4 linked regions of the Homo sapiens genome follow. The protein of the gene in region 1 purifies or fractionates together with the protein of each later gene. This does not show direct contact. Each region holds a gene or a part of one and is shown in the gene's direction. Other genes may lie near its edges.

Region 1 (7,899 bases):
ACTGGTGGGGGTGGGGAGTGGGGGCAGGGTGGGGATGGTGGGAGATATTAAACAGGTAGAATCTATAAGGACTGGCAAATGAGAGTGTGGGGCCGTGGAAAGTGAAAGGGAAGCAGGCCGGATGCGGTAGCTCACGCCTGTAATCCCAGCACTTTGGGAGGCTGAGGCGGGTGGATCACCTAAGGTCAGGAGTTCGACACCAGCCTGGCCAACATGGTGAAACCCCACCTAAAAATACAAAAATTAGCTGGGCATGGTGTCAAGTGCCTGTAATCCCAGCTACTCAGGAGGCTGAGGTGGGGGAATTGCTTGAACCTGGGAGGTGGAAGTTGAAGTAAGCAGATATCGCACCTCTGTACTCCAGCCTGGGCAACAGAGCAAGACTCTGTCTCAAGGGAAGGAAAAAAAAAAAAAAGCTGGACTGGGCAGCTGAGTGAACGATGGTAACATTCGTGGAGATGGAGATAAGTTGTTGGCGTCTAAAACAGTGCCTGCAGTTATACCTGGCCCAGCATTGAAAACAGTTCCCAGCCCTGGTAGATACAAGTTGGCTCAATGCTTAAGAACAATTTATTCGGAGAAATGAGGAAGAAGCTGGTCTGCCCTTAGTTGATAAGGGAATGGGAATGAAAGACTGATAGGAGCTGGAAGAGGATATAGGGTCATGGTGGAGGTTTCTTCCTGATATGACAGGCCAGGGGTGTTTGGAGGAAAAAGCTAGTAGAGAAGTTAAAGGCGTAGCAGAGGAAGTGAGTGATAAAGCAGGATCCTGGAATAGCAAGGGGACGGTAAGCAAAGATGGAGAGCTGAGTGGCGAGTAGCGGGGTGAGAGCTTCTTCCACGTGTACAGATGGATGTTAGCAGACTCCCTCCCCACTCCTGACTGCCTGACTCTTCTCAGTGAACGCATCCTATGCTAAGAGGTATCACAGAACATTTCAGGAGGTGTTACAGACTTGGACTAGTAGAACCAGGCAATGGGAGAAGGCATTGAGAGATGCTGATTGCTGAGCAGTGCTGAGAGCCAGTTGGGGTCATCTTTCTTCAGCTGGCTCAGTGGCTGTGCTGGAGGAACAAGTATTGATTCACAACTGATCCATGTCGGTATCTGGCAGGTGAAATGAAAGGCCAGATTTTACAACAGCATTGAGGGCTGAGGCCAGAGAGTGCTTGATTAAGTGATGAACCAATGACAATAGTGAGGATGCTGATAACAGTAATCACAGCATATCAAAATAGGAAACTGTAAGGCCAGGCGCGGTGGCTCACGCCTGTAATCCCAGCACTTTGGGAGGATGAGGCGGGCTGACTGCTTGAGGTCAGGTGTTTGAGACCAGCTTGGCCAACATGGCAAAACCCCATCTCTACAAAAAATTAGCCAGGCATGGTGGTGGGTGCCTGTAATCCCAGCTATTTGGGAGGCTGAAGCAGGAGAATTGCTTGAATCTGGGAGGCAGAGGTTGCAGTGAGCCGAGATTGCGCCACTGCACTGCAGCCTGGGTGACAGAGCCAGACTTCATCTCAAAAAAAAAAAAAAAAGGAAACTGTTAAGCCCCACATCCTTTGATTGTCTTGATTAAAACCATGAACACAGCTAGTCACAAACTACTATAAGATTTGATTAGAAGTGTTGGCCGGGAAGAAGTTTATTGACACTAACACGAGTGCTTTTTAGAATACAAAACTCAGTTGTCACTGGAAAGATGAGGGAGAAAACTGAAGAATATTTACAAATAAGTTATAGTGGTGAGCATGCACATACATACAAAAGAGCACTAGTCAGGTTGGTTAAGGTCTGTGTAAGTTAGATATTGACCTACTTTGTATTTTGTCTTCATGAAATTGAGTTTCTGGCAGGTCTGTTTGCTATGATAATTTGTCTTTTGAATGGAGATTATCTTAAGAGAATGTAGTACTTAATCTCAAAGATAGGATTACTACAAAGCCTGTTTTTTCATGTTTGTTGTCAGAAACTGAATTTACTACATGTTATAGAAAACTGCATTTGTTAGATGTTTAAGAATTGGGTTTATCCATCTGTTATAATACTCATCACAGTGTCCATGTGTATAGTTTGCCAATGTTGACCTCACTGAATTGTTTTTTTTTTTTTTCTAGACGGATTCTTACTTTGTTGCCCAGGCTGGAGTGCAGTGGCACGATCTCAGGTCATTGCAACCTCCGCCTCTCAGGTTCAAGCGACTCTCCTGCCTCAGTCTCCTGAGTAGCTGGGATTACCCACCACCAAGCCTGACTTAGTTTTTATATTTTTAGTAGAGACAGGGTTTCAACATGTTGGCCAGGCTAGTCTCCAATTCCTGACCGCAGGTGATCCACCCGCCTTGGCCTCCCAAAGTGCTGGGATTACAGGTGTGAGCCACCATGCCTGACCTCATTCTGTAACTCTATCATTTTAAAAGTGGCATCAATTCACTTGCTCTTCAGAGAGAACCAAAACCCTTTGTCTTTGCTTTCTCTCTAGAGGCCTATTTGACCAAAATAAACTCGGTGTGTAAATCACAACACAAGGCATGTTTCTTTGTCAACAATAATGAACATTTATTGACTACTTTTTAAATGCCAGGCACTGTGCTAAGCACCTTTTCATACATTATCTTACTTGGTCCCCACAACAGCCCTGTGAGGTAGGCACAACAATTATCTGTCTCTTACAGATGAGGCTGAGTAACTTTTCTAACAATCCTCTAGTAAACTGTATTATAAGAAACTGTTTGGCTTGGAGAAGTGAAAGCTCTGGGGAAAAGGCAGCCACAATAACTACCGTCAAATTATCTGAGTAGATTCTTTGGGGTAGAGTGATTAGCTCCTTGGATCATAGCACCAAGAGGTAAGGACGTAGGGGTGAAAGTGACAAAGAGAACATGCAAAATGAAAGGGATTTTTCTAGCACAATGTAAGGTTGGAGAAGGAATTTAAGTACTGGATGGGGTTGAAACAGACAGCTTTGGAGGGCATCTATCAACTGAGTCTACTATTCTCTTCCTTCTCTGTATTCTCCACTTCTTTCGAGTCATCGCATATACTGGTACATTCATTCTTTTTTTCCATTCAATAAACATTTACTGACCTGCACTATCCAATACAGCAGCCACTATCCAAATGTGGCTATTTAAATTTATTAAAATTAAGTCTGGGCTGGGCCTGGTGGCTCAGGCCTGTAATTGTAGCACTTTGGGAGGCCGAGGCAGGTAGATCACCTGAGGTCAGGAGTTCAAGAGCAGCCTGGCCAAAATGGTGAAACCCCTTCTCTACAAAAATAAAAAAATTAGCCAGGAATGATGACGGGTGCCTGTAATCCCAGCTACTCAGGAGATTGAGGTGTGAGAATGCTTGAACCCGGGAGGCGGAGGTTGCAGTGAGCCCAGCCAGTGCCACTGCATTCCAGCCTGGGCGACAGAGCAACATGCCGTCTCAAAAAAAAAAAAAAAAAAAAAATTTGAGTCCAACAAGAAATTCAGTTACTCAATTGCACTAATCACATTTCAAATGCTAACTAACCACACTTTTTTTTTTTTGGGGATGGAGTCTCGCTCTGTCACCCAGGCTGGAGTGCAGTGGCGCAAACTCGGCTCACTGCAACGCCACCTCCCTGGTTCAAGCAATTCCCTTTCCTCAGCCTCCCAAGTAGCTGAGATTATAGGCGCACACCACCACGCCCAGATAATTTTTTTTTTGTATTTTCAGTAGAGACGGGGTTTCACCGCGCTGTTTCAGGCAGCTTAGGTAGTGATGGTGGCCACACGAATGAAAAATCTGAGTCCTTGACCTTGAGGAGCTTATGGTCTAGTGGAGGAAAAAGAAAACATCCCACCCAACATTATTCATTAAGAACTAGCGCTTACGTAGCTCCTTCTGTAAATCGAGCAGTTTGTGTTTTTTTTTCCCCAATAATCCTTTTGCCCTCCTAAAATCAGGCAGTTTGCTAAGCACTTTTTGTGACTATCTGGTTCCATCTTCTTAACACCATCGAAATAGGTGCCATTATTATGCCCACTTTGCAGACAGGGTCATAAGTTAAATAATTTGCCCAACCTAAGTAACAAATACTGAGTAGAGCCACAAAGGAAGATGTGCTCAACTCCGCCTGGGGAGGTTAAGGAAGGTTTGAAGCAAGAAGGGACTAAAACCCGTTTGTCCACACCATGGTTACTGAACGTGTGGGCCACCGACTACCTACGTTAGGATTACCTGGGGTGCTCTTTTAAAAAGTGCAGATTCCCTGCATCCCAATTTGAAGCTCTGTGGGCGGGGCCTGGGAACCTCCGTTTATAACAAGATCCCCACCCCGGCCCCCGCCCCAGCAATTCCTTTCGGTTCACTAACCGAGGTTTAAGAACCAATGGTCCACACCGCATGGTTCTCTTTATTCAGCTTTCCCTCGCCGTTCCCTTGCCTTTAACCTCACTACGGATCGCGATTGGAGTCCGCGCTGCGTAACCTCGGGCCAGCCTCTCCGAGCCTCAGTTTCCCCATGCGTAAAATGCGGAGCCCGGGCCCGCGGAGCCGCTGCCCGGCGGCCCCGCCCGTCAGCCGACAGGCGCACAGTGGGCGCTCCCCAAACGCGGCCCCCGTCCGGCCGCCCGGGTCCCGCCCCTCTCGGCCAGCCCAGGTTTCCTACCCTTGCAGATCTGCTCCCACAGATTCTTGCTTGACGGCTCGGTGACCTGCCACGACGAGACAGGCAGCTCGCGGGACGCGAGAGACACGGTGGGCACCGGCGTCCGGGTGAACGACGAGTCTGTAGAGCAGCTGGGCTTGAGGCGCACTATGTGGCTGGGGATTTGCCGCGGTGCCGCCATGGCCGCGGTTTCCACGGTAACCGCGTTCGCCGGAAGGCCGCGACCCGGAAGAAGCCGGAACCCGAGAGGGTGGGCCGGCGACTCGAAGTGGACTTCCGGGTCACGGCGGAGCTGGCTCTCACGTGGAGGCGGGGAAATTTCGCCCACCGGTGAGTGCCAGGGCGCGTTGCAGGCGGGCCGGCGCGGGGTGTGGAGATTGCACCAGAGGAAGTGCGCGGCGGGGAAGATGGGGAAATGCGGTCCACCCACATCCCTGAATCCGACCCCTCCAGTCGGTGTGCGCCCGCTCCGGCCTGAGGCCGCCGCCTCCAGAAAGTTTTCCCGCCTCAGAGCCGGCCCTGGGACCCCACGTAATCCCTCCCAGTCTGTTGATGCGGAGGCTTGGGCCCATGGGAGCCTTGGAGGTACGGATCTTACTTCCTGGCTCCCGCGCGTCCTGCTGGTGATCCTGCCGGGGGAGTGGGGTGTTGCTGCACAGGCTTTGGAGTCCTGTGGGCGGAATTCCAGTCTCCGTTTTCCACTTGCTGGCTTTGGAACCTAGGGCAAGTGAATTATTGTAGTCTCTGGAGCTTGCGAGGTCGGGTATTCACAAAGATCTTCACAAGGCTGTCCCTGGAATTTAAAAGCGGTTTTGGAGAAAGCGTTTGCGTTTGCAGGAGATGCACTGTAACGTTCTTTTCCTTTCTCCTTGAAAGAGTGAATGCATTTGGTCGCAGGGCTAAAGAGGAGGATGCTATACTTTTCTAAATGGCAAGAGATGGGGAGAGAAGGGGATTAAGAGTTGACCCGCAACCTCCCGGTGGATTCTTTGTTCTTACCAGATCTCTTGGCCACTCCCCTATTCTGAAGTCGTCTTGGCTCTCTTGACTGCTCCCCTATTCTGAAGTCGTCTTGGCTCTCTTGACTGCTCCCCTATTCTGAAGTCGTCTTGGCTCTCCTGACTACACTATTTCAAGGTTTGCACCTTCTTCTTTGCAAGCTCCTTTATCTCTGCCCACTTATTTAAATGCCAATACAATAGTCCCCCTCCCCCATTATCCGCGGGCAGTACGTTCCTAAACCCCCAGTGGATGCCTGAAACCACAGACAGTACCGAACCCTAAATATAACTGTTTTTTCTTGTGTATACTATCTATGAGAAAGTTTATAAATTAGGCACAGTAGGGCCGGGCGTGGTGGCTCATGCCTGTAATCCCAGCACTTTGGGAGGATGAGGCGGGCGGATCACCTGAGGCCAGTAGTTGGAGACCAGCCTGGCCAACATAGTAAAACCCCGTCCCTACTAAAAATACAAAAATTAGCCGGGCGTGGTGGTATGTGCCTGTAATCCCGGCTACTCGGGAGGCTGAGGCGTGAAAATTGCTTGAACCCGGGAGGTGGAGGTTGCAGTGAGCCGAGATGATGCCACTGCACTCCAGCCTGGGCAACAGAGCCAGACCTTGTCTCACAAAAAATTAGGTGCAGTAAACGATTACCAACAATCTAGCTAGTAATAAAATAGAACAATTACAACAGTATACTGTAATAAAAGTTGCATGCATGTGGTCTCCCTCTCAAGATAACTTCCTGTACTGTGCTCACCTATTTTGGGACCAGGGTTGACCAGGGGTAACGGAAACCTGGGATTAGGTGGCGAGCTACTGTATTTCTTGAAGTCTTGTCTCAGGCTTGTTCTGTTCAAGGCTTATCACCACCCATACATTCCTAACTTTATGTCGCCCGTGTCAGCACGGCCACCCAAACTCCTCATCCATATATATTCACCTGTCCAGTGAACATCTCCAAGTCATCTGTCCAATCAAGCCTGTTCTTCAGCCACTTGCCTTCAGTACCTTTGTCTCAGGGATTAATACCACCATCCTGCAGTTGTTCTTCAGAAATTTTCCTGACAACTGGTAGGACAGGTTCCACAACCTCCACCACCCTGACCTTAGCACTGTCCTTGCTTTTATCACCTGTATCATTGTATTACACCTTATTCCCTCCCACACCTACTTGCTTCTTGATGGGTGGTGTTTTATCTTGTTCATCTCTGTATCCCTAGCATGTGTGCATTCATTCAGTGAGTATGTATTGAGCACCTGCTATGTGCCAGGCACTGAGCAGGACACTGGAAATAAACCAGGAAACAGGGCAGACAGCAATGAATGAGTATAGTTATTCCCTTGACTCTCCAGGTGCGCCTGGAGTGGGTTATGAATGAACTTGACCTGTAGCTCAGGCCTGGCTCTTTGAAGCTGCTAAGAGAGAGCCAGCTCCAGTGTGGACCCTCTGAGTTCCGAAGCTGAGGAGGGCTGCAGGATGGAGAAGTTTTTCCTTTCCCTCCCATGATCCTAACTTGCTATGAAATATTTTGGGATATTTTGCTTCTAGATTCTGGGAATGTCTAGTGCAGGAACTTGGCTGGGGACTGGAGTGAGAGCAGTGGTCCAGCTGGACACTGATGGGTATTGAGGACCCCAGCCCATTCTCACAGGTGCTTCCACGATATCTGTCCAAGACAAGCTGGGTGCCCTCAGTACTGTGCATCATTGTGACTCATTCAGTGTTGGCAATCAACTTCAAATTTTAAAAACAGTGGAACTAGGCCAGGCAAGGTGGCTCATGCGTGTAATCCCAGCACTTTGGGAGGCTGAGGCGGGCGGATCACTTGAGGTCAGGAGTTTGAGACTAGCCTGGCCAACATGGAGAAACCCCGTCCCTCCTAAAAAAGAAAAAAAAAATTAGCTGGGCATGATCACGGGTGCCTGTTATCCCAGCTACTCAGGGGAGGCTGAGGCAGGAGAATCACTTGAACCCAGGAGACGGAGGTTGCAGTGGGCCGAGATCACGCCACTGCATTCCAGCTTGGGTGACAGAGCAAGACTCTGTCTCAAAAAAAAAAAAAAAAAAAGAGAAAAAGAAAAAGGGAATTAACAGTGTACCAAGCCCTTTCCATGGGTTATCTCATTTACTCCCTCCAACACCCTTTTGAGGAGGGAGGTGTTATATTCCCCCATTTTCCAGATGGAGAAATTGAGGCTCAGGGAGGTTAGCTGATTTACTTAAGGTGAGAGAGGCATTTAGGTTTGAACCTAGG
Region 2 (7,281 bases), on another chromosome or scaffold:
ACATATAAAAAGGATCATACACCATGACCAAATAGGATTGATTCCAAGAATATAAGGTTGGTTGGACATATGAAAATCAGTGTAATACAAAATGTTAATAGAATAAAGGAAAAAACAACATGATCATCTCAATAGATGCAGAAAAAGCACACACAAAATCCAACACACTTGCATGATAAAAAGCATTCAACAAACTAGGAAAAGAAGTCAGGCCGAGTGCTGTGGCTCACTTCTATAATCTGAACACTGGGAGGCTGAGGCAAGGGGATTGCTTGAGCCTAGCCGTTTGAGATTAGCCTGGGCAACATGAGACCCCATCCCTATAAAAAATTTAAAAATTAGTGAGACGTGGTGGTGCATGCCTGTGATTTCAGCTACTCGGGAGGCTGAGGTGAGAGCACTGTTTGAGCCCAGGTCAAGGCTGCAGTGAGCTGTGTTCACACCACTGCACTCCAGTCTGGGCAACAAAAGGAGACTGTATCTCAAAAAAAAAAATCAATTGATAAAATAACATAAAAAAAAAGAAAAGAAAAATCCAAGCTGCCTTTGTTGCAGAAATTGAGAAATTGACCCTAAAATTCATATGGAAATTCAATCTTGCAAAAGAGAAAAATCATAAAAGTCACATTTCTTAGTTTCAAAACTTACTACAATGCTATATGGTAATCAAAGCTGTGGATCTAGCATAATGAAAACCAGACAGATCAATTAAATAGAATTGTGGGTCCAGAAATAAACCCTTACAATTATGGTCGATTGATATTGCAAAAGGATGCTAAGACAATTCAATGGAGAAAGAATAATCTTTTCAACAAATGATGCTGGGACAACTGGATATCCATATACAAAAGAATAAAGTTGAACCCCTATCTCACACCATATATCAAAATAAAAATGGACCAAAGGCTTAAATATAAGAGCTGCAATTAAAAATGTTTGAAAGAAGACATAGGGTAAATCTTTGTGATGTTGGAATAGGGAATGGCTTCTTAGATATGATACCAAAAGCACAGGCAACAAAAGGAAAAAATATGTAAACTGGGCTTCAACAAAGTTCAAAAGATCTGTGCTGAAAAGCACATTAACAACAAGATAACGCCTACTAAATGGGATAAATATTTGCAAATTATGTATCAGGTAAGGGACTTATATCTGGAATACATGAGAAAATATTAGAACTCAACAATAAAAGGACAACCCAATTTAAAAACCGGGCAAAGGATTTGGATAGGCATTTTTCCAAAGAAGATATAAAAATGGGTAATCAATCAGCACATGAAAACATGCTCACCATCATTTGCCTTGCCATCAAGGAAATGAAAATCACAATGAGATACCACTCATATCTGTTAGGATGGCTTAATAAAACAGATGGACAATGCTAAGTTTTGGTGAGGAGTGGAGAAATTGGAACCTTTGGTAGATAGAACAATGCTTCCTTCAACTCCCAGCCCAAAGATGTTGAGAACCCCCAGGTATCTGTGAATATGTTACTTTATATGCCCAGAAGGAATTTGCTATACGATTAAGGATCTTGAGATTATCATGGATTATCCAGGTGATGCCCATGTAATCACAAGGGTTTTATTAAGAGGGAGTTAGGAGTGTCAGAGCATCAGAGAAAAAGATGTGACAATGGAAGAAGTTCAACTGATGATCTTTGAAGATGGAGAAATGCCAAAGTATGCAGACAGTCTACAGAAGCTGGAAAAAGCCAAGAAACCGATTCTCCCCTGAAGCCTCCAGGTGGAATGTAGTCCTACTGACTTCTTCATTTTATTTATTTATTTATTTAATTTATTTATTTATTTACTTAAGAGACGGAGTCTTACTCTGTTGCCCAGGCTGGAGTGCAGTGGTGCGATCTCAGCTTACCGCAACCTCCACCTCCCAGGTTCCAGTGATTCTCTTGCCCCAGCTTCCCAAGTAGCTGGGACTAGAGGCGTGCCACCACGCCTGGCTGATTTTTTGTATTTTTAGTAGAGATCGGGTTTCATGGTGTTAGCCAGGATGGTCTTGATCTCCTGACCTCATGATCCGCCCACCTCAGCCTTCCAAAGTGCTGGGTACAGGTGTGAGCCACTGCTTCCGGCCTACATTTTAGACCTGCAAAACTGATTTCAGACTTCTGACTTCCTGAAGTATAAAATAATAAATGTGTGATAATTTGTTACAACAGAAATAGGAAACTAATACCAAACTCTCTTACATTGCTCATGGGAATTTAAGTGGTGCAGGTGCTTTGGAAAACAGTTTACCAGTGCCTCAAAATGTTACACTTAAGAGTCAGCATATGACCCAGCAATTTTTCTCCTAGAGAATTGAAAATGTATGTCCACACAAAAATTTGTACACTAATATTCAAAGCAGCTGGGTGTGGTGGCACGCGCTTGTGGTCCCAGCTACTCGAGAGGCTGAAGCACTAGAATCACTTGAACCCAGGAGATGGAGGTTGCAGTAACCTGAGATTGCATCACTGCACTCCAGCCTGTGTGACAGAGTGAGACTCTGTCTCAGAAACAAAACAAAGCAAAGCAAAACAAAACAAAAAAACACAAAGCAGCATAATCCATAATAGCCAAAAAATAGGAACCATTCAAATGTACATAAGCTGCCGGGTACAGTAGCTCACGCCTGTATTCCTAGCACTTTGAGAGGCCAAGGCGGGTGGATTACCTGAGCTCAGAAGTTCAAGACCAGCCTGGCCAACATGGTGAAACCCTGTCTCTACTAAAAAATACAAAAGTTAGCAAGGTGTGGTGGTGCGTGCATGTAATCCCAGCTACTTGGGAGGCTGAGGCAGAACTGCTTGAACCCGGGAGGTGGACGGCGCAGTAAGCCAAGATCGCACCACTGCACTTCAGCCCTGGCGACAGAGCAAGACTATGTCTAAAATAAAAAAAGTACCTAGGTTGATAAATGGATAAACAAAATGTGGTATATCCATACAAAGGAATATTATTCAGTCCTAACAAAATGGAAGTACTGATCCACGCTACATGTATGAACCTCAAAAAGATAGTGAAAGAAGTCAAACACAAAAGGCCATACGTTGCACGAAACCATTTATATATGTTCAGAATAGGCAAATCCATTGAACATAAAGTAGATTATTGGTTGCCAAGGGCTGGCAGGAGGGGGAAGTGGGGCATGGACTGCTACTGGGTGTGTGTGTCAGGGGGGTTCTTTTTGAGGTGATTAAATATTCTGGAATTAGTGGTGATATTTGCACATCTTTGTGAATACACCAAAAATCACTGAATTGTACACTGTAAAGGGGTACATTTTATGGTATGTGAAGTATATGGTAACTTAAAAACTGGGGAAAAATCACGAACAGCAGTACATTTTCTGCGCATCTTTTATGTACTAGGCAACTGTGGTAGTCATAAATTCTGTCACACAGATCGCATAGTTGTCAATAGTGCCCCTTTCACATCAATGTTTTTAGTGCTTATGTGAGTACCTACCGTGCAATCAATCAACCTTTCTAGCATCCTGGGATTCCTTGAAGAATAAAATCTGGTTTCTGAATACCTGACTCCAGGTATGCACACTAGCGCGTACATCAAACTGCGAGGGTCTATGTTATTTTATTTTATTTTTATTTTATTTTTGAGACGAAGTCTCGCTCTGTCACCCAGGCTGGAGTGCAGTGGCGCGATCTCCGCTCACTGCAACCTCCGCCTCCCGGGTTCAAGCAGTTCTCCCTGCCTCAGCCTCCCGAGTAGCTGGGGTTAGAGGCGCCCGCCACCACGCCCGGCTAATTTTTGTATTTTTAGTAGAGACGGGGTTTCGCCATGTTGGCCAGGCTGGTCTCGAACTCCTGTTATCAGGTAATCCGCCCGCCTGGGCCTCCCAAAATCCTGGGATTACAGGCGTGAGCCACCACGCCCGGCCAGTGTTACTTAAAAGTATTACCTCGCACCTGTAACTCCAGGAAAGAGCCGGGGCAAAAATCCGTAACCAAGACAACAGGGCGCGATTCCAATCAAGATGGCCGCCAGCGCCTCTAGACGCCCTCTACGAGGCCGTCCCCGGAAGTGGCGTTACGCGCAGCTTCCGGTTCCGCCTGTTCCGGCGCACGTAATCGCCGAGGGCACGTGCATGCCCCCTGGTTAAGAGTTGCAGGTAGCGGTAGCGATGGACACTCTGGATCGAGTAGTGTAAGTGCGCTGGGTCTCAGCCCCGGGGAGCGTTGGGGTGAAAGGGTCCCGTGATGAGGGTGGTACTGTCTCGGCCTCTCACTCTTCCTGGTTACCCCTCTAATTACCTGGGTGGGGGCCGATCGATCACCAGCCCGGGTCCTCCTCAGCGCGAGCTGCTTGCCAGGAGACAGTGGGGAAGCTCTCAAGTGGGAGCCGTGGGATGGGAGGGATGTGGGATTGAAGCGTTGGCCGCTTTTATCCTAGCCAGTTGAAAAACGTCTGACTTCCGAAGTATGAGACAGATGGTATAGTGGGGTTAGGAGCACAGCCCTCGGAATCCGACAGATCTGAGTGACAGTCTGGCGCGTCCACTTAAAGCTTTGTGACTTTGGGTCATTAAATATCTCTAAATCTTAGCTTATTCTGTAAAATAGCGCTCACCATAGTCATACTTCATAGAGCTGTGAGGGTTAGTTTCGAGAATGTATGTAGAGCCTTTGCTGCAGCACGTAGAAATGTTCATTAGTTTTTTCTTTTCCTTCCAACTTTGTACACTCCTCTGAGTTATCCTTGAATGATACCTGTTTTAAATTTGTTCAAGAATATTTGGGCTAAACAGCCCTGCTGTTACTTGCTGTGATTTTCTTGCTATTTACCTAAGTTAACATGTATCCAAAACGACAGTTTTAGTCATTCAGAGATTTTGCACACCTGCTATGCCTCTAGCTGTTTGGACTACAAAGAGTAGTTTACTAGGTATTGGGACTAGTTCACACGTTAATTGGGAGCAGGCAGCTAATAAAACATGTTAATTGCTATTTGCATTTGTTGCTGTTTAATGAGATACAAAAGATAGAATAATTTGTATCTTTATCAACCAGTAAATGATCAGAAGCTTTATATGTGACATTATATCTGGAGGAGTATTTTAAAAATCTACATGGGAAACTTAAGTGTATGTATGGTCTCTTTTTCTTCCCAAAGTGTCCATGGGACTGGACGAGGGAGGGTCATAATTATTTGGGAGGAAGAATTCTTTCAGTAGATGGCAGAGAACTGTCTGAAAAGCAAGGTGCTCATTGTAGAGGAAGCAGAGGTGAAGCCCCTCTTTTGAACAGAAGTGTGTAAAAACATGCCACTCCTACTGTCACATCATAAAGTCAGAATAATGAATTTATTTTCCCTTCATATTTTACAGGGTAATTGGTCTAGACGAATTTTTAAATCTAGCTTTAAAAAATTTGTTTTTTTTTGAGACAGGGTATCACTCTGTCACCCAGGCTGGAGTGCAGTAGCCCCATCACAGCTCACTGCAGCCTCGACCTCCCTGGGATCAAGCAGTCCTCCTACCTCAGCCTGCTGAGTAGCTGGGACTATAGGCGCACACCACCACAGCTAATTTTTGTATTTTTTGTAGAGACAGGGTTTTGCATTGTTGCCCAGGCTGGTCTCGAACTTCTGGGCTCAGTGATCCATCCACCTTGGCCTCCTAGAGTGTTTTTATTACAGGCTGTGGGCCACCTCCCAGCCCTAGCTCATTTTAAAAATTGGCCTGTTTACTTGCTGTGTGATCTTGGGCACATTACCTGTCTGTTCAATTGCCTCATCTGTAAAGTGAAGATAAGAATTGTAACTCGCGCGTGGAGGCTCACGCCTGTAATCCCAGCACTTTGGGAGGCTGAGGCGGGGGGGTGGGTCACGAGGTCAGGAGATCGAGACCATCCTGGCTAACACGGTGAAACCTCGTCTGTACTAAAAATACAAAAAATTAGCCGGGCGTCGTGGCGGGCGCCTGTAGTCCCAGCTACTCGGGAGGCTGAGGCAGGAGAATGGCGTGAACCTGGGAGACGGAGCTTGCAGTGAGCCGAGATCGCACCACTGCACTCCAGCCTGGGCGACAGAGCGAGACTCTGTCTCAAAAAAATAAATAAATAAATAAATAAGAATTGTAACTCTCAGGATTGTGGTGAAGATTAAGCCTTAATAGAGTGACTCCATGTAAACATCAGCCTTATTATTCCCCATTGTTGGCAATAATACTGGCATTCTCAGCAATGATGTTGGAGTGCAACAGTGTATACTTCCTGGCAGGCATTGTGGTCTTAAACCTAAAAGAAAAATAAGCAGTCGTTAGTCTTATGTTTAGTAAATGTCCACAGGTTGATCAGCAGTTGATGCTCAATTCTTTGTATTAGGGTACAGGATACAGTTTGACTACTTAAAGTTTGAAGAAAAAAGAAGAGTAAGAAAGAGTAAGAGAAAAAAAACAGCAACAGTATTTACTTGAGCCTTTTATTTTTTACTTAAAAAAAAGATTGGAAAGAGCAGTAATAAAAGAATGGTGGGAATACAAAAATGAAAGCTTTTTTTTAAAAGCTATCAAAACACTTATTTAACAATAATAAGGAAATATCTTTTACTAATATCTACCAAAAAAGTGAGATTTTGGCCGGCCCTTGTGGCTCGCACCTGTAATCCCAGCACTTTGGGAGCCGAGGTGAGCGGATCACCTGAGGTCAGTAGTTCGAGAATAGCCTGACCAACATGGCGAAACCCTGTCTCTGCTAAAAATACAAAAATTACCCAGGCGTGGTGGTGTGTGCCTGTAATTCTAGCTACTCGGGAGGCTGAGGCAGGAGAATTGCTTGAACTCAGGAGGTGGATGTTGCAGTGAGCCAAGATTGTGCCATCACTCTCCAGCCTGGGTGACAGAGTGAGACTCCATCTCAAAAACAAACAAAAAAAAACAAACAAAAAAAAGAAAGTGAGATTTTTTTTAAGGGTGGAACCCTAAGTGACAAATATGTTTTTAAGAATTTTCATATTAGTTAAGTCATGGCTTTGCAATGTGAGGAAAATGTTTAAATAGTTATGAATTGTGCTTTTCTGAACAGAAAGCCCAAAACGAAAAGAGCCAAGAGATTCCTTGAGAAGAGAGAACCGAAACTCAATGAAAATATTAAAAATGCCATGCTGATTAAAGGGGGAAATGCAAATGCAACAGTGACAAAAGTACTTAAAGATGTGGTAAGTATATATACTTAATCTTTAAAAGGTATTGAAGTCATTTTAGAATTTTCAGCATGCTAGGATGGGCTGTCGGAGAAATACGTAGATAAGCTTGCCTTACCAT
Region 3 (7,232 bases), on another chromosome or scaffold:
CACTGTACTCCAGCCTGGGTGACAGAGAGACCTTTAGAGAGTCTAAAAAAATAAAAGCTGTGGCCGGGCGTGGTGGCTCACGCCTATAATCCCAGCACTTTGGGAGGCCGAGGTGGGCAGATCACGAAATTAGGAGTTTGAGACCAGCCTGGCCAACATGGTAAAACACCGTCTCTACTAAAGATACAAAAAATTCACCAGGCATGGTGGTGCGTGCCTGTGATCCCAGCTACTCGGGAGGCGGAGACAGGAGAATCGCTTGAACCCGGGAGGTGGAGGTTGCAGTGAGCCGAGATAGTACCATTGCACTCCAGCCTGGGCGACAGGGCGAGACTCTGTCTCAAAAACTAAAAAAATAAAAGCAGTAAAATATTGGCAATTTCATATTTATACGCATTTTAAAAATGTTTAAACGTCATGCAGGCCAAATAAAACACATCTGCAGGTGACACCTGATCTCTGATCTATGTACTTCATTCACCAGTGAGTGATTGAGACTGATAGTTGAGATTGACTGATTTCCTTTTCCATTTTTTCACTTTTTTTTTTTTTTAGCTTTGCCACTGGCAGACAATCAAAATCTACAAGATTATATTACATGAATGAAATCTCTAACATTTGTTGAATACTCACTGTGTACTAGGTGCCATACTAAAAACATTACATATATTAAATTTTCGCAGTAACCCTATAATGTATGGTGGTTTTTTTGTTTGTTTGTTTTATTTTGAGACAGAGTCTTGCTGTGTCAGCCAGGCTGGAGTGCAGTGGCACGATCTCGGCTCACTGCAACCTCCGCCTCCTGGGCTCAAGCAGTTCTCCTGCCTCAGCCTCCCGAGTAGCTGGGATTACAGATGTGTGCCACCATGCCTGGCTAATTTTTGTATTTTTAGTAGAGACGGGGTTTCATCATGTTGGCCAGGCTGGTCTCGAACTCTTGATGTCAGGTAATCCGCCCACCTTGGCCTCCCAAAGCACTGGGATTACAGGCATGAGCCACTGCGCCTGGCCGTATGTTCTTTGTTAACCCCATTTTACCGATGAGAAATCAACGTTTAGGTTAAGTATTTTGCCTAAGATCGAATAGCAGGTGAGTGATGATATGAAATTAGAATCATCACATGTAATCTGTATTAACCTTTTAGTACAAAGTAGTATACAGTATAAGTTAACTAGCAATGTGACATGTAGACACTTTTAAAATTAGCTTTAAAGATAGGGCACAGTGGCTCATGCCTGTAATCCCAGCACATTTGGAGGCTGAGGTGGGTAGATCACTTAAGCTCAGGAGTTTGAAACCAGCCAGGGAAACATAGCAAAACCCTGTCTCACCAAAAAATACAAAAATTAGCCAGGTGTGGTAGTGCGCACCTGTAGTTCAGCTATTTGAGAGGCTGACGTGGGAGGATCGCCTGAGCCCAGGTGGTCGAGGCTGCAGTGAGTCAAGATGGCACCACTGCACTCCGGGGGTGAGAGTGAGACTCTGTCTCAAAAATAAATAAATAAATAGGCTTTAACATTTAGTATGCTTATAAACAAAATCTTTGGGGCCTGGCACGGTGGCTCACATCTATAATCCCAGCACTTTGGGAGGCCGAGGCACGTGGATCACTTGAGGTCAGGAGTTCGAGATGAGCCTGGCTAACATAGTGAAGCTCCATCTCTACTAATAATAGAAAAAATTGGGCTGGGTGCGGTGGCTCACGCCTATAATCCCAGCACTTTGGGAGGCCAAAGTGGGCGGATCACGAGGTCAGGAGTTCGAGACCAGCCTGGCCAATATGGTGAAACCCTGTGTCTACTAAAAATATAAAAATTAGCTGGGCGTGGTGGCACTCGCCTGTAGTCCCAGCTACTAGGGAGGCTGAGGCAGAAGAATCGCATGAACCTGGGAGGCAGAGGTTGCAGTGAGCCAATACCGGCCACTGCACTCCAGCCTGGGTGACAGAGTGAAATTGTGTCTCAAAAAAAAATAAATCATTGGGATAAAATGTTAAATAAAACATATGTAAAATTATATATGCAGCATGATTTCAGTTACAGTCATGCATCAGTTAAGGACAGAGATAGGTTCTGACAAATCCATTTGGTGATTTTGTTGTTGTACAAACCCAAACCTACTACACAGTAAAGCCAGCTACACACCTAGGCTATGTGGTGTGGCCCGTTGCTTCTAGGCTACATACCTGTACAGCATGTTACAATACTGAATACCGCAGGCAATTTTAAGACATTTACCTACATGTATCTAAACATAGAAAAGACACTAAAAATATGGTGTAAAAGATTTTTTAAAAGGTACACCTGTCTAGGACAGCTTTGTTATAAGATTATGGGGCCACCATGATATATATGGTTCATCATTGACTGAAACATTGTTATGTGGTGCATAACTATATTAAAAAATGAAAAAAGGAAAAAGCTATATATGGAAAATGAGACTAGGGCCAGGCTCAGTGGCTTATGCTTGTAATCCCAGTGCTTTGGGAGGCCAAGGCAGGAGGATCCCTTGAGGACAGGAGTTCAAGGCCAGCCTGGGCAACATAGCAAGGCCTCATCTCTACCAAAAAAAAAAAGTTAGCCGGGCATGGTGATGCGTGCCTGTAGTCCTAGGTACTGGAGTTCAAGGTTGGAGCAAGTTATGATATCACCACTGCACTGCAGCCTGGGCAACAGAGCGAGACCCTGTCTCCAAAAAAAAAAAAAAAAGAAAGAAAAGAAAATGAGACTAGAAAGAAATTAATTTGGACAGTAGGACTTACTTTTCTTCTTCCTTTTTTCAAATATTTTTCAAATTTTATTTACTAAGAATGTTTTAAAACAAAACAAATTTTTAAAAAATTAAAAGCAGAAGACACTAAAAGGCTTTGTGAATTAGTGTAAAATTTGACAGAAATGAAATTGAACACAAGAACTAAAGAAATTTTAAAAATAAGTTTTAGGCCGGGAGAGGTGGCTCATGCCTGTAATTCCAGCACTTTGGGAGGCCGAGGCGGGCGGTTCACCTGAGGATCCCAGCTACTCGGCAGGCTGAGTCATGAGAATCTCTTGAACCGGGGAGGAGGAGGTTGCAGTGAGCCGAGATCACGCCCTTGCACTCCAGCCTGGGCAACAGAGTGAGGCTCGGTCTCAAAATAAATAGTTTTAAAATTTGTGTTATGTTTCTTTTCACTGGTGAAACAAGATGTAGCTTAGGAAAAATAATATCTTTGCTTTTGTACTGCATAAAGGAATAATTTTTTAATGTTAAATATAGTGTATTAATGGAACTCCAGTCTAGGTGACAGAGTGAGACCTGAGACCCTGTCTCCAAAAACAAAAACACAACAAAACGTGTGAGCAAACTAGGAATAGAAGAGAACTTCTTAACCTAATAAATGTCAGCTATAAAAAACATAGCTAACATCATACTTAATGATGAAAGACAATGCTTTCCTTATAAAATCAGGAAAAAGAAAAGATTGCCACTCACAACCGCCAACGTTTTATTGCAGGTCCTAACCAGTGCAACAAGGCAAGAAAAAAGATATAAAATACAAAAATTGGAAAGATAAAAGTAACCATTCTTAGGTGACATATTTGCTTACATAGAAAATACTAGGGAATGAACAAAAAAACTGCTAGAACTAATAAGTTTAGTAAGTTATGAGGATATAAGGTAAATTTACAAAAACTTTATTTCTATATATTAACAGCAAACAATTGAAAACAATGACAATTTTAAAAAACAGTTGCATTTACCATAGCATCAAAAGGCATACTTACTTAGGAAAACAGTTAACAAAAAATGTGCAGAACCTTTGCACCAAAAACTACAACATATTTTCAAGAGGAATTTTAAAAGCTAGCATAACAAAACCCCATCTCTACTAATAATAGAATAAACAAGGTGTGCTGGCACATGCCTGTAATCCCAGCTACTTGGGAGGTTGAGGCACGAGAATAGCTTGAACCTGGGAAGTGGAGGCTGCAGTGACCCGAGATTGTGCCACAGTACTCCAGTCTGGGTGACAAAGCAAGATTCCATCTCCAAAAAAAAAAAAAAAAGACAAGTCTCACCCTGTCTTCCCAGACTGGAGTGCAGTAGCATGATCATAGCTCAGTGCAGTCTCAAACTCCTGGGCTCAAGTGATTCTTCTTCCTCAGCCTCCTAAGTAGCTGGGATTATAGACACCACGCCCAGCTAATTTTTTTTTATTTTTTGTAGAGATGGGGGTCTCACTATGTTGCTCAGGCTGATCTTGAACTCCTGGGCTCAAGTAGTCCTCCCACCTTGGCCTCCCAAACTGCTGGTATTGCAGGTATCAGCCACCATGCCTGGGCAACAGTGGGAATTCTAACACATGTTTTTGGAAATGTAAGTTGGTTGGGCCACTCTGAAGAACATGTAGTGAAGCTAAGGTAGGCATACCCTCCAGCCTACCAATTTCTTTGCTAGTGATACTGAAGCAGGAGAATAGGGTCTGGAGGCAGGGAACCTAAGGCCGATTCACAGTGACTTCCTAGAACTGAATCAAAAGGAGAACTCCACCTCTCTACACCCAAGTAACAAAAGGATCAGAGGCTACTCCCTTTGCACTGTATTACAGATAAAAAATGGAAAGTACCTCTGACTGGTCCCCTCCTACAACCAATCAGACTGGTCCCAGGCCAAGTCTTCATGTGTAACTTTGTAGCTTTGCTTCAGCCTCTAATTGGTCGCCTCCCTCCACCAGACTGGTGGTGGGCCAAGTCTTCATTTACATAGGGTGTAACCGAGTAACCAGTGGGAAACCTTAGAGGGTATTTAAACCCTAGAAAATTCTGTAACCAATGCACTTGAGTGGCTTGCTTGAGCCTGCTCCCACTCTGTGGAGTATCTTTTCATTTCAATAAATCTGTGCTTTCATTGCTTCATTTTTTCATTGCTTTGTGCATTTTGTCCAATTCTTTGTTAAAAATGCCAAGAACCTGGAGGACTCATAGGCAAGACCCTCCATTGGTAACAGAAGGATATAATATTTCTTTAAAAATACTGAAAATTATGGCAAGTATGTCAAATACGGAGAAAATAATTTTTTTTTTTTGAGACAGAGTCTTGCTCTGTTGCCCAGGCTGGAGTGCAGTGGCATGATCTTGGCTCACTGCAAGCTCCGCCTCCTGGGTTCACACCATTCTCCTGCCTCAGCCTCCTGAGTAGCTGGGACTACAGGCGCCCGCCACCACGCCCAGTTAATTTTTTGTATTTTTAGTAGAGATGGGGTTTCACCCTCTTAGCCAAGATGGTCTCGATCTCCTGACCTCGTAATCCGCCCACCTCGGCCTCCCAAAGTGCTGGGATTACAAGCGTGAGCCACCGCGCCCGGCCAGAAAATAAATCTTGTTGGTAGATACATGGGTGTTTATTATTCTCTGTACTTTTTTGAATATTGAAGTAGATCATACCAAAAGTGCAAAAATAAAACAACAGCTAACAGGTGAGGGAGTGGAGACAGTGAATGGGAATTGGCTCTTTTGAAAAGACCTGTTCCATCTGACTCCCATCACCCTTGGCTTCCAGACTCCAGACCTCTGTGGCACACAGTGCTGCAGCCTCCTCTTTTATATTATCTATGATCCCTTTCCTCTTAGCCACTACATTTGGTTGATGGGATTGGTTGTCTCAGAAGACCTTCATTTGAATCCTAGCTCTACTACTGGCTGTGTAGATCTCTGGGCAAGGTAACTTCTCTCACCCTCAGTCTCCTTAACTCTTAAATGGTAACAGTAATGTATTCTTTTTTCATTGATAGGCAAATATATATTGAGTACCTACTGTGTGCCCAGCAGCTACATTAGGTACAGAGATATGCTGGTGAAGACACCTGCTTTAGCAGTGATTCTTAACCTTCAGTCTCAGAATTGCCTGTGAAGTCCTGAAAAAATTAAACATAACTGGGCCTCACTATGGAAAACACTAATTAGGTCCAGAATTAATGCATCGGGTTGGGGTGCCTCTGTCTGTAACATCCCTTCACAGATGATTACAGTACTCAGGAGAGGTTGAGAATCTTTATGCCAGTCTATGGTCTGTGGGAGCAGGAATTGTGTTTTTCTTGTTTCTCATTATATTCCTAGAGCCTGGCACATGGTAGGTGCTCAATAAGTATTTGCTTAATTCTGAATAAGTAAAAGAAAAAAGACATTGTCACTGTCCTCAGAAACTAATAGTAAAACATGTTCTATGAGTGTTAAATGAAATAAAGTATGTCATAATGTTGACTGAGCTACTGGCAAAAAGTAGATGCTTAGTCAATTTTTGTTGAATCTTATATGTAATTTCTAAATCCCCATCTCTAGCCTTAGTCACTGGCTTCTAATAATTATATTAATACACACTAATTAATATGCATATAATCACAATTTTCTGTTGCTTATAGAACTCTTATCAGTGTTCTACCATCACCTCAAATACTGCATTTCTAAACCTGAAAGTTGCTTCTTTTGCCTCTTTTCTTCCTCCTTGATCTAGCTCTCTTCTAATTTTTGTCACTGACACCATCTTTTTTCCATTTGTCCAAGCTAGAAGCTTCTTAGTCATCTTTGAATCTTTATTTCTCCCGAGCCACATTTTATGATCATAGCTTGATGCTGAATCCCTATGATAGCACCATGAAGCAGTAGGGTGTAGTGGTTAAGATGGACCAGTATGAGACTGAAAATTTGATTTCTAGCTTTGTCACTTGCTGGCTCAGTGAGCTTAGATAGGTTACTCTGTCTGTATCACCTGTAATCTGCCTGTATTACCTGTAAATAACCTGAAATTCTGTCTGTATCACCCATAATCTGTCTGTATCATCTGTAAATAACCACAGGGAAATTGTAAGAATTAAGTGGTTGTAAGGTGAACACTGGCTAACATATAAATGCACTGTAACTGTTAGCTATTATTGCTAAATATTTTGTCTCTTCAGTTAAATTGTAGCTCCATGAAGATGAATATCATGCTGTTTCTTTTTTTTGGTACCCCTTCTGAAGCACCTAATCGCACTAGAAGGCACATAAGCAGGCTCGAAATACCTGTCAGATTTGGGAATACAGTAGTTACTTTGTTTTATGTTTAATATTAAAACATCCATTTTTCTTTAAAGCCTGATAAATAATTTTAGGACTTCTTTAGAATCTAATTCTTGCTATCTGAAAACAAGATTAACATAAACATGAAATTAAAGTGAAGCAAAATGAATGTGTTCTTAGTGAAACAATTACTTATT
Region 4 (7,232 bases), on another chromosome or scaffold:
GTGAAACTCCATCTCTACTAAAAATACAAAAAATTAGCCAGGCGTGGTGGTGCACACCTGTAATCCCAGCTACTCGGGAGGCTGAAGCATGACAATCGCTTGAACCCGGGAGGCGGAGGTTGCAATGAACCGAGATTGTGCCATTGCACTCCAGCCTGGGTGACAGAGTGAGACTCTGTCTCAAAAACAACAACAACAACAACAAAAAACGGCCAGGCACAGTGGCTCACGCCTGTAATCCCAGCACTTTGGGAGGCTGTGGCAGGCAGATCATGAGGTCAGGAGATTGAGACCATCCTGGCTAACACGGTGAAACCCATCTCTACTAAAAATATAAAAAATTAGCTGAGCGTGGTGGTGGGCGCCTGTAGTCCCAACTACTTGGGAGGCTGAGGCAGGAGAATGGCGTGAACCCGGGAGGGGGAGCTTCCAATGAGCCAAGATCATGCCACTGCACTCCAGCCTGGGTGACAGAGTGAGGCTCTGTCTCAAAAAAAAAAAAAAAAAAAAAAAATCCTTTGGCAGTTTTATATCTGCCAAAACTGACCTGTACATTTTACTGTATGTAAATGATGCCTCAGTTAAAAATAAAATGATTTCAAATTGTGTTCATTGCTATGAAGAAAATATAAAGGATGCTATGATATTGATTAAAGGACCTGGGAAGGCTTCTCTGAGGAACTAATACATTTAAGAGAAGACCTGAGAAATGAGGAGTTAGCCAGGTGCTTACCAATGGTGCCTGATGTGCTTATAAAATCTAAAATCATGGCCAGGCGCGGTGGCTCACGCCTGTAATCCCGACACTTTGGGAGGCTGAGGTGGGTGGATCACCTGAGGTCAGGAGTTCGAGACCAGCCTGGCCAACATGGTGAAACCCCACCTCTACTAGAAATACAAAAATTAGGTGTGGTGGCACACACCTGTAATCCCAAGTACTCGGGAGGCTGAGGCAGGGGAATCGCTTTAACCTAGGAGGTAGAGGTTGCAGTGAGCCAAGATTGCGCCACTGCACTCCAGCCTGGGCAACAGAGTAAAACTCGGTCTCAAAAAAAAAAAAAAAAATCTAAAATCATTGACTGCAAGGCCCTCTATGGGCCAATCCTGGTCTACTTCTCCATCCTCATCTCCTCCTAACCCCCATGTGCTCTACACTTTAACCACACTGGGCTTCTGGGGTCTTTAAATACACCTTGATCTTTTCTCCCGCTGGAATGTTCTCTCTGCCTGGAGTGCTCTTCCTTCTCTCCTTTACATAGGTAACTCCTCATTCTTCGGGTCCTACCTTAAATGTCCGTTCCTCAGAGAAGCCTTCCCAGATCCTTTAACCAATATTATAGCCTAGCATTCTTTATTTTTTCTTCGTAGCAGTAAGCACAATTTGAAATCATTTTATTTTTAACTGAGGCATAATTTACACACAGTAAAATGCACAGGTCAGTTTTGGCAAATGTAAAACCAAATAGCCATTACCCTAATTATGATTAGACCATTAAAAAGACCATTTTTAATCATCCCAGTAAGTTCCTATGTGACTTATTCCAGTTAGTGGTCATGTATTTGTCTATGTACTCATTAACTGCTTACTGGCCATCAGGCTAAGCTCCATGAAACCAGAGAGTTCATCTTGTTTGTTGTCTGACCTCAGTGCAGAGCCTGACACTTAGAGAGGAGAAGGGTCAGTCAATATTTGTTGAATGAATGAAAAAAATTTTTTGAGTAGGTAAGATGTAGAAGGTGAGACAGAGAAGGAGGGCAAAGAGGGAGAAGGAGCTGCTGTTAAATATATATATATTTTAAATTAGAGACATTTATTTATTTATTTATTTATTTAAAAATAGGTATTGCTTTGCTGCCCAGGCTGGTCTCAAACTCCTGGCTTCAAGCAATCCTTCTGCCTTGGCCTCCCAAAGTGCTGGGATTACAGGCATGAGCCACAGTGTCTGGCCTGTTGCCTTTTTTTTTTTTTTTTTTTTTGAGACAGAGTTTCACTCTTGTTGCCCAGGCTGGAGTGCAGTGGCACAATCTCGGCTCACTGCAACCTCTGCCTCCCGGGTTCAAGCCATTCTCCTCCCTCAGCCTCCCAAGTAGCTGAGATTACAGGCACACACCACCATGCCTGGCTAATTTTCATATTTTTAATAGAGACGGGGTTTTACCATGTTGGTCAGTCTGGTCTCGAACTCCTGACCTCAGGTGATCCACCCGCCTCAGCCTCCCCAAGTGCTGGGATTACAGGCGTGAGCCACCACGCCCGGCTGCCTGTTGCCATTTTTTGAATGCCTAAGAGGTATGAATTGTTTCAGCCAAAGGCCATGCTGGCTGAACACTTCTCCACCAGGAGAATAAAATAGCCCTGATTGGGTTTGTTAATATTGCCTCCTCTCACGGGATCTTCTGAATCTCACTTACCTTCCTCTTTCTCTGAGTAGGTGATGGTTCCTCCTACTTTACAGAGAAAATTGAAGTTATCAGCCAGGAACTTTCAGAAATCGTGGCTCCACACCTACACGTTTACCTGTAGTTCCACCCCTCTTATTTTCTTTCCCTTCTGTTACAATGAAAGAAATATCCCAGGCCTGGTGCAGTGGCTCACGCCTGTAATCTCAACACTCTGAGAGGCCAAGACAGGTGGATCGCTTGAGGCCAGGAGTTCGAGACCAGCCTGGCCAACATGGCGAAATTCCGTCTGCACTAAAAATATAAAGATTAGCTGGGCGTGATGGCACATGCCTGTAATCCCAGCTACAAGGGAGGCTGAGGCAATGAGATATCACTTGAACCCAGAAGGCGGAGGTTGTGGTGAGCCAAGATCACGCCACTGCACTCCAGCATGGGTAACACAGCAAGTCTCTGTCTCAAAAAAAAAAGAAAGAAATATCCCTGTTTCTGCCTAAGCCTAATCCATCTGCCACTGGGTGCTGCTCCATTCTTCTCTTGGAGCTTTTTTGGTCCCTTATCTTCTTTCTCTGTAGTTTCTTTTACCGTCTTCCTCCATACTTGTTCCTTCCATCAGCATTTAAACACAATCATGTTTTCCCTTCTTTAAAAATAAAAAATAAAGGAAAGTTCCCTTAGCTTTCCATCCCCCTCAAACATCTATCCCCTTCTCATCTTCAGAGCCAAGCTCCTTTGGACTGTCTTTTCTCACCTTCACCTTCTCACCTGGTACACTCATCACTTTACTGTTAATGGCCTCCATCCCAGCACTCAGTGAAGGCATTCCAGCCACAGCCACTGTTGATGACCTTGTTGTCAGATCTGTTAAATACCTTATCCTCTGTGTTCTTGACAGTCCCACAGAATTTGACATTCTCTTGGCTGCTGTAACACCACACTTGCATGATTTCCCATTCGCTCTGGCCACATTAATCTCTCACAAGCTCTTCCAAAATGCTGGCTTTTCTCACATGTGTACATTCTGCCCTTTTCTCATACCATCACTCCTTGAGCAACATGAAGCTCCTAATTGCCTCTCTGTGGATGACTCCCACGTCTCTATTGCTGGCCCAGTTGGCATTCCAGCTGTGTCTGAATTCTCTGTTAGAATGTCCCCAGATGCTTCAAATTTAGCATGTTCCAAACTAAACTATTTCCTCCTAAAATACGGGGCTTCCCCTATGATCTCTGCATCTGGCAATGGCATTGCCATCCACCTGGTTGCCCAAGCCAGACTCTGAGTATCATCCTTCCCTCTTCATCCTCACCTCTCCAGTCTAGTCGACCAGCCGACTTAGTCTTATCCTGTCTCCTGTCTTCCTCTTCACTATGTCCAGAGGTTGTCCACTTCTCTTTTTAAAAATTTTTTAAATTAATTTTTTATTTTATTTTATTTTGAGACAGGATCTCACTCTGTCACCCAGGCTGGAGTACAGTGGTGCAAAAACAGGTTGCTGCAGACTCAACCTCCTGGGTTCAAGTGATCCTCCCACCTCAGCCTCCCGAGTAGCTGGGATCATAGGCGCATGCCACCATGTCTGGCTAACTATTTTTTTTTTTTTTTTTTTTTTTTTTTTTGTAGAGACGGGGTCTTGCTATGTTGCCTCGGCTGGTCTCCAACTCCTGGACTCAAGCAGTCCACCTGCCTGAGCTTCCTAAAGTACCAGGATTACAGCTGTGAGCCACCATGCCCGGCCTAAGATCTTTCTTCAGTCTTGGCCAGGTGCAGTGGCTCACACATGTAATCCCAGCACTTTGGAAGGCCAAGGTGGGTGGATCTCTTGAGCTCAGGTGTTTGAGACCAGCCTGGGCAGCATAGTGAAACCCTGTCTCTTAAAAAAAGTGTGTATGTGTGTATTTCTTCAGTCTTGATGGTATTAACAAGACTTCTTCCAGGTGTGTCCTGAGAGTCTCTGGTCATGTAGTCTGTGGTAGATTTTTCACTGAGATATGATTGTCCTCTTCAACCTAAAAATCGCCTTGGAAAATAAGCCAAACAAGCTATACGTAGACATTTTAGGAGTATTGGGGTTCTCTAGTTCTTTATATGTGGTATCTCCTCTATGCTTATTAATCAGAGTCACATCGTACCTGGTGGTTTTTTTTTTTTGAGGCGGTGTCTCGCTCTGTCGCCAGCCTGGAGTGCAGTGGCACCATCTCAGCTCACTGCAACCTCCGCCTTCCAGGTTCAAGTGATTCTCCTGCCTCAGCCCCCCGAGTAGCTGGGTCTACAGGCGCCCACCACCACGCCCAGCTAATTTTTGTATTTTTAGTAGAGACAGGGTTTCACCATGTTGGCCTGGATGGTCTCGATCTCTTGACCTCATGATCCACCGGCTTTGGCCTCCCAAAGTGCTGGGATTACAGGTGTGAACCACCGTGCCCGGCCCCCATGCATGGTGTTTAATAAGCTCTTGTGGCTGGGCATGGTGGCTCACACCTGTAATCCCAGCACTTTGGGAGGCCGAGGCAGGCAGATCACTTGAGGTCAGGAGTTCGAGACCAGCCTGGCCAATATGGCGAAACCTGGTCTCTACTAAAAATACAAAAATTAGCCAGGCCTGCTGGTGCGTGCCTATAATCCCAGCTACTTGGGAGGCTGAGGCAGGAGAATCACTTGAACCTGGGAGGTGGAGGTTGCAGTGAGCCAAGATCATGCCAGTGCCCTCCAGCCTGGGGGAACAGAGCGAGACTCCGTGTCAAAAATAAATAAATAAATAAATAAGCTCTTGCTTTCAAGGAAACCCTAATCTAGTTGGTTTTTGAATAGAGTAGATTTTTAGTACAGTAAAACAGTCTGTGAGATTTAAAATTTTTTTTCTGACTTTAAAATATTTGTATTAAATGTAGAAATGTTGAAATTTAGAAGAATATAAATCTAAAAATCAGTCATCTGTAATCCTGCTTCCTGCCTAATGGCAGCTGTTACCAATATTTATATATATATTTTATCCCACTGTGTCATGCTATATATATGAAATGTGTGTGTATATATACATATATACACATATATACGTATGTATACACATATATGTATATATGACATATAAGTACATATATGTATGTATGACATATATGTATGTTACATATAAGTACATATGTGTATGTATATGATACGTGTATGTATATATGACATATAAATACATATACGCACATATGTAATATATATTATATATATACACACACACATACACTCATATAGTTTGAGTATCTCAAATTCAGAATGCTCCAAAATCTGAGACTTTGTCAACGTGATGGTCAAAGGAAGTGTTCTTTGGAGCTTTTGGGATTTCAGATTTTCAGATTTGGGGTGCTTAGCTAGTAATGCAGATATTCCAAAATCCCAAAAACCCTAAATCCAAAACACTTCTGGTCTCAAGCATTTCGAATAAGGGATACTTGACATATATATGTATATATATATAGTTCAGAGTATATTCTATATGTAGTTTTGTATTCTCCTTTTTCCTCTAAAGCTCATATCGCACATTTCTGTGGGATCCAGGTAAAAAATCTCCACCCAACCATAGCACAACACAGATTTATATCAGAAAAGTAGCTAATTTTTGACTGCCAGGATTAAGCTGCTTTTGACAAAGTTATATGTTTAGCCCATGTGTTCCTGATGGTTAGCTTCCTCTTTATGATCATGCACTACAAATGGAGGGGGATTCTCTTTTGTATTTTCTCTTAGGTAGTTCGAGGACACTACAAAGGTCAGCAAATTGGCAAGGTAGTCCAGGTGTACAGAAAGAAATATGTCATCTACATCGAGCGGGTGCAGCGTGAGAAGGCCAACGGCACAACTGTCCACGTGGGCATTCACCCAAGCAAGGTATGGTCAAGGACTGAGTGGCAGTAGCAGCCATGGAGTGTGTCAATACTGTTCAAAGTTATTGGTGTTTTGGTACTCCCTGCACAGTTGGCTGAGGCAGGCCAGGTGGACTTGATTGATTCAGTAGCTTTGTGATATCATCAAGGATCCAGATTTTTCTTCTCTTCTCTTTTCTGTTTTGCCTTTCTTGGTGATGGCTGTGTCTTTTTTTTTTTTTTTTTTTTTTTGAGACGGATGCTCGCTCTGTCACCAGGCTGGAGTGCTGTGGTGCGATCTCGGCTCACTGCAACCTCCACCTCCTGGGTTCAAGCAATTCTCCTGCCTCAGCCTCCCAAGTAGCTGGGACTACAGGCACACACCACCACGCCCAGCTAATTTTTATATTTTTAATAGAGATGGGGTTTCACCATGTTGGCCAGGATGGTCTCGATCTCCTGACCTCGTGATCCGCCCGCCTCGGCTTTCCAAAGTGTTGGGATTACAGGTGTGAGCCATCATGGCCGGCCGATGGCTGTGTCTTTAAGCTGGTTGCAAGAGGCTTCCAAGTGTTCTAGGCATCACTTCCCCTACCACATAATATTCAGAGGAATAAGAGAGAATATATCTTCCTGTAGCCCTCATGCCTACCTAGTGGAACATGCTATTTTTCCTTTGTGTTCCTATTTTGTATTGTGTTACAGGGTCTGTTTTCCTTCCAGAGTTTCAGTTCCTTAAAAGCTGAATGGCTGAGGTCTTACTTAACTTATGATGTCTATATTGCTCAATAGCTGGTGGGGATGCAGAAATAAAGACCTGTTTTCTCACTCCCAACAGGTGGTTATCACCAGGCTAAAACTGGACAAGGATCGGAAAAAAATTCTTGAACGCAAAGCCAAGTCTCGACAAGTTGGAAAAGAGAAAGGCAAATATAAAGAAGAACTTATTGAGAAAATGCAGGAATAAATAGAACCTGTTGTGC

Evidence for each region.
Region 2: the proteins of KNOP1 (region 1) and RPF2 purify together in Homo sapiens (affinity purification with mass spectrometry; 2 studies listed by BioGRID and IntAct, with this or other methods). This does not show direct contact.
Region 3: the proteins of KNOP1 (region 1) and SRSF12 purify together in Homo sapiens (affinity purification with mass spectrometry; 2 studies listed by BioGRID and IntAct, with this or other methods). This does not show direct contact.
Region 4: the proteins of KNOP1 (region 1) and RPL26L1 purify together in Homo sapiens (affinity purification with mass spectrometry; 3 studies listed by BioGRID and IntAct, with this or other methods). This does not show direct contact.

What each region holds. Positions count from the first base shown.
Region 1 is NC_000016.10:19,715,228-19,723,126, reverse strand, and holds the start of KNOP1 (lysine-rich nucleolar protein 1), read left to right. Parts: upstream 1-4,899; 5' UTR 4,900-4,969; exon of another isoform or gene 4,970-5,046; coding exon of another isoform or gene 5,047-5,224; exon of another isoform or gene 5,225-5,776; intron 5,777-7,899. Other genes in the region: IQCK (IQ domain-containing protein K), read right to left, coding at 4,640-4,820.
Region 2 is NC_000006.12:110,977,964-110,985,244, forward strand, and holds the start of RPF2 (ribosome production factor 2 homolog), read left to right. Parts: upstream 1-4,074; 5' UTR 4,075-4,143; coding exon 4,144-4,166; intron 4,167-7,042; coding exon 7,043-7,175; intron 7,176-7,281. UniProt on the Homo sapiens protein: Involved in ribosomal large subunit assembly. May regulate the localization of the 5S RNP/5S ribonucleoprotein particle to the nucleolus.
Region 3 is NC_000006.12:89,107,925-89,115,156, reverse strand, and holds part of SRSF12 (serine/arginine-rich splicing factor 12), read left to right. Parts: intron 1-7,232. UniProt on the Homo sapiens protein: Splicing factor that seems to antagonize SR proteins in pre-mRNA splicing regulation.
Region 4 is NC_000005.10:172,962,326-172,969,557, forward strand, and holds part of RPL26L1 (ribosomal protein uL24-like), read left to right. Parts: intron 1-6,133; coding exon 6,134-6,274; intron 6,275-7,087; coding exon 7,088-7,216; 3' UTR 7,217-7,232.